Regions from separate parts of the Homo sapiens genome. Here region 1 is linked to region 2. Evidence: fine-mapped expression QTL. Tissue or cell type: whole blood. Region 2 holds a variant in brackets; the other region holds the start of a gene. All regions are shown on one strand. Distances are between the middles of the regions.

Evidence for each region. PIP is the estimated chance that this variant, and not a neighbour inherited with it, causes the effect.
Region 1: SDC4 starts here. The variant in region 2 is fine-mapped to the expression of SDC4 in whole blood (INTERVAL, PIP above 0.99). The same link has a PIP of 0.9 or more in testis.

Annotation. Positions count from the first base shown.
Region 1 is chr20:45,347,397-45,349,995 of GRCh38, reverse strand. SDC4 (syndecan 4) reads left to right here and starts at 1,572. Exons shown (of 5, transcript NM_002999.4): 1 at 1,572-1,671. The coding sequence starts at 1,612.
Region 2 is chr20:45,324,371-45,326,969 of GRCh38, reverse strand. SDC4 (syndecan 4) reads left to right here. Exons shown (of 5, transcript NM_002999.4): 5 at 1-1,682. Among named protein-coding and RNA genes, the nearest start is that of MATN4, 17 kb to the right of the region's middle. The variant C/G (reference allele first, on the strand shown) is at 1,552.

The sequences.
Region 1 (2,599 bases), 23 kb before region 2:
AGGATGAAGGGTAAGGAGGACACACAACTTTCTCTTATAAAGGGTGGAAGCTTACCCTAAGAATGGAAATAAACTTGCAGACCAGTTCTCAGAGAGATCAAACTTTTGAAAAAGTTCAAAATCTGGTAGATGAAGCCCTTAGAACAGACGTCAGCCACTCTGAGACCAGCGTCAGAGTGGTCTCAGAGTGGCTGAGGCCCACCGCCTATTTTTGTTCAGCCCACTGCTAAGAATGGTTTTTGCATTTTTATTTTTTATTTTTTTGAGACGGAGTTTTGCTCTGTTGCCCAGGCTGGAGTGCAGTGGGGAGATCTCAGTTCACTGCAACCTCCGCCCCTCGGGTTCAAACGATTCTCCTGCCTCAGCCTCCAGAGCAGTTGGGATTACAGGCGCAGGCAACCATGCCTGGATAATTTTTGTATTTTGTAGAGACGGGGTTTCAGCATGTTGGCCAGGCTGGTCTCAAACTCCTGAGCTCAAGTGATCCGCCGCCTCAGCCTCCCAAAGTGCTGGGATTACAGGCATGACTCACTGCATCCGGCCTGCATTTTTATTATAAAATGTCATTTATTTATTTATTTATTTATTTATTTATTTATTTATTTATTTTTGAGACAGGGTCTCACTCGGTCACCCAGGCTGGAGTGCAGTGAGCGATCATGGCTCACTGCAACTTTCACCTCTCTGGCTCAAGCAGTCCTCCCACCTCAGCCTCCAGAGTAGCTGGGCCACAGGGGTGCACCACAATGCCTGGTTAATTTCTTTAAAAACTTTTTGTAGAGATGGGGGTCTCATTATGGTTGCCCAGGCTGGTCTCCAATTCCTGGGCTCAAGGGATCCTCCTATTCCTCGGCCTCCCAAAGTGCTGGGATTACAGGCGTGAGCCATAGAGCCCAGCCGATTTTTGCATGTTTAAATGGTTGGGAATAAAGTCAAAAGAATAATAATATTTCGTGACACATGAAAATTATATTAAATTCAAATGTCGGTGTCTATAAATAATGTTTTATTAGGACCTAGCTGCCCTCATTCCTTTAGTATTTATGGCTGCTTTTGAGCTACGACGCTCGAGTTTGAATAGTTGCCACAGGGATCGTATGGCCCGCAAAACCTAAAATATTTAGCCCTTTACAGAATAGTTTGCTGTCCCCTGTCTTAACACGGTTCACATCCCATTTGGGAAGTTCTGTGTCTTCAGAGGGGAGCACACCCGGTATGAAGGCTGGTCTAAACTCAACACCCTAGGGAAGTCCTTCCCGTCCCTGGGCCTTAGTTTCCCCAACTATAAAATGGGGTTAGCCGCAGTGATCTCTGGGGACCTGCCTGGCAGTGGGTCAAATAAATAAAGGGAGTTGGAGCTCCCGGAGGGTAGGACTAGGGGTTGAGTAGGAGCCGGCGGGCTCGGGCAGGGCGGGTCCCTTGGGGTTTCCAACTCCGCGGGCGGGCGCAGTGCCCCGCAGGCCTCGCTTCCACTGGGGAATTCCGGGCGGGGTGCGGGCGGCGGGGCGGGGGCGGGCCGGGGCGGGGCCGGTAGGCCGCCTATAAGATGGGTGGCGCGCCCGCCCGGGGCCACTCGCCGCAGCCTGCGCGCCTTCTCCAGTCCGCGGTGCCATGGCCCCCGCCCGTCTGTTCGCGCTGCTGCTGTTCTTCGTAGGCGGAGTCGCCGAGTCGGTGGGTGCTTGGAGGTTCCCGGGCTGGGGGCGAAGCGGGGGCGCAGGCCGGTGCCTCCTTTGTTCGTCGGAGCGTGGGATGGGGGGGGGCAGATCGGGGGTACGCTACCCCCAACCGGACACCGAGGCCCGGGAAACTTTGTTGGAAACTTTGCTCCGGGGTCACGGGCCAGCCTCCGGGATGGCTTCACGCGCCGTGCGCCCCTCGCCTGTTGCTCTTCCCGCCTCCCCGGGCCTCAGCCCCGCCGCGGGCTACGGGCTCGTTAGTGACTAAGCCGGTGTCAACTCTTCAACTCCCACACCCTCGTCCCTTCCCTGGTGACCCTGGGGCAGGCTTGGAGCGCTGAATCCCCTCCTCGCTCTCGGGGCGCCCAGAGCAGACAGCTTTAGGATCCGAGATGGCCCTGGGGGTCGGGGGGCTGCGTGTACTCGGAAGGGGGAGGGTTTTAGGGTTGTGCGAGGCCCTCTTTCACACACCAAGGAGAACTGAGCCCTAACCTCAGTTCTGGCCCCAGCTCTGTCATTGACTTGTGACTTAGGGCAAAGTCCTGCCCTTCTGAATCTCTTCCCAATACTGCACCAAGGGTCTGAGGGAATGGGGCAAGAGGGGACACTGCGTTAGGGTTTCTAGAAAGTTGGGGACTCTGCTCTTTTCGAGGACAGAGGAGAGGAATGGTTTAGACTCAACACTTAGCCAGGAGCTGAGCCTCTGCTTTCTGCAAGAAGTGTGTTCATTTTTTCTCAATTGCAGATAAGAAAATTGAAGCATCCACCTTGAGTGAGGTGAAGGGGGTAGGGGGGAGAGAAGGCCTCAATCAGCCCAGGGAAACCTTTCCTTCTCACTGTCCACTGGCCTCCGTCATAGCTGTCCCTGGGCCAGCAGAAGCTCTATCCATGCCCGCAGCCGGCTTAGGAGGAGGGGGGCAATC
Region 2 (2,599 bases):
TCAAGCCCATACTGACCATGCCTCATCCAGAGCTCCTCTGAAGCCAGGGGGCTAACGGATGTTGTGTGGAGTCCTGGCTGGAGGTCCTCCCCCAGTGGCCTTCCTCCCTTCCTTTCACAGCCGGTCTCTCTGCCAGGAAATGGGGGAAGGAACTAGAACCACCTGCACCTTGAGATGTTTCTGTAAATGGGTACTTGTGATCACACTACGGGAATCTCTGTGGTATATACCTGGGGCCATTCTAGGCTCTTTCAAGTGACTTTTGGAAATCAACCTTTTTTATTTGGGGGGGAGGATGGGGAAAAGAGCTGAGAGTTTATGCTGAAATGGATTTATAGAATATTTGTAAATCTATTTTTAGTGTTTGTTCGTTTTTTTAACTGTTCATTCCTTTGTGCAGAGTGTATATCTCTGCCTGGGCAAGAGTGTGGAGGTGCCGAGGTGTCTTCATTCTCTCGCACATTTCCACAGCACCTGCTAAGTTTGTATTTAATGGTTTTTGTTTTTGTTTTTGTTTGTTTCTTGAAAATGAGAGAAGAGCCGGAGAGATGATTTTTATTAATTTTTTTTTTTTTTTTTTTTTTTTACTATTTATAGCTTTAGATAGGGCCTCCCTTCCCCTCTTCTTTCTTTGTTCTCTTTCATTAAACCCCTTCCCCAGTTTTTTTTTTATACTTTAAACCCCGCTCCTCATGGCCTTGGCCCTTTCTGAAGCTGCTTCCTCTTATAAAATAGCTTTTGCCGAAACATAGTTTTTTTTTAGCAGATCCCAAAATATAATGAAGGGGATGGTGGGATATTTGTGTCTGTGTTCTTATAATATATTATTATTCTTCCTTGGTTCTAGAAAAATAGATAAATATATTTTTTTCAGGAAATAGTGTGGTGTTTCCAGTTTGATGTTGCTGGGTGGTTGAGTGAGTGAATTTTCATGTGGCTGGGTGGGTTTTTGCCTTTTTCTCTTGCCCTGTTCCTGGTGCCTTCTGATGGGGCTGGAATAGTTGAGGTGGATGGTTCTACCCTTTCTGCCTTCTGTTTGGGACCCAGCTGGTGTTCTTTGGTTTGCTTTCTTCAGGCTCTAGGGCTGTGCTATCCAATACAGTAACCACATGCGGCTGTTTAAAGTTAAGCCAATTAAAATCACATAAGATTAAAAATTCCTTCCTCAGTTGCACTAACCACGTTTCTAGAGGCGTCACTGTATGTAGTTCATGGCTACTGTACTGACAGCGAGAGCATGTCCATCTGTTGGACAGCACTATTCTAGAGAACTAAACTGGCTTAACGAGTCACAGCCTCAGCTGTGCTGGGACGACCCTTGTCTCCCTGGGTAGGGGGGGGGGAATGGGGGAGGGCTGATGAGGCCCCAGCTGGGGCCTGTTGTCTGGGACCCTCCCTCTCCTGAGAGGGGAGGCCTGGTGGCTTAGCCTGGGCAGGTCGTGTCTCCTCCTGACCCCAGTGGCTGCGGTGAGGGGAACCACCCTCCCTTGCTGCACCAGTGGCCATTAGCTCCCGTCACCACTGCAACCCAGGGTCCCAGCTGGCTGGGTC[C/G]TCTTCTGCCCCCAGTGCCCTTCCCCTTGGGCTGTGTTGGAGTGAGCACCTCCTCTGTAGGCACCTCTCACACTGTTGTCTGTTACTGATTTTTTTTGATAAAAAGATAATAAAACCTGGTACTTTCTAAACTGCTTGCCTCTGTCATTTTCGTTCATAACAAGTCATCCTTTTTGGGCTCTGTATCCCCTTGATCTCAGTGGAGCATGAAGAAACTCCCCGGACCAAATCCCCTACGGGGTGCCAGACATGCCGGGGGTGGGCAGAGGGTGGGGGCAGAGAGGTAAGAAGGCAGGAAGGGGCCTAGAGAAGAGGGAAGACTTCAGAACATGCACCCTGATGGCCTATGCAGCATATCACCCCTACTTCAAGGTTTTGTTTAGGTGGCACTGTGTTTAAATAGCAAACACAAAAATCTTTGCGTCAGTTGCCATCCATAGAAATCAGGAGGTTTCTCATAAAAATCCAGATTTCTCACTTTTCTTGGGAAAAAGAAATAAAAAAAATTGGCAACTGTCAGCCTGCATGGCAACAAGAGAGCTGCTGAGCGGCAGGCACCCATCTAGATGTGGGCTCTCCGCACCACTGTCTCCGCCTGCTTCACTCAGGCCACTGCTGCAGCCAGGCTGGCTGGCAGTCTCCGGAAATAGCATGGGCCATCTTTCTTGACCACTATAACAACCCTGTGAGGTGGGTAAGATCCTTGTTACCAAGAGGGCAACCTGCCCCTAGTGTGTCTGGAGAGTCGAACCTTAATTTCAGGTCCTTGGACATTGGTGATCTTCCTTTGGCACCATGTTGCCCAGTACTTTGCTGGGGTTGGGGAAAGGACGCAAACAGGAATTGGTGGTAGTTGGAGCAAACCCTCCCATACACACCATGTGGCCAGGAACCCATTCTTAGGGCTTTATACCAGATCCCATTTAATTGTCAGATCTCCACAGAGTAGGTGCTATTAGTAACCCCATTTGACAGATAGGGAAACTGCATCTAAGAGGTTAAATACCTTGCTCAAAGCTACACAGCTTACCAGTTGTAGAGGTGAGAT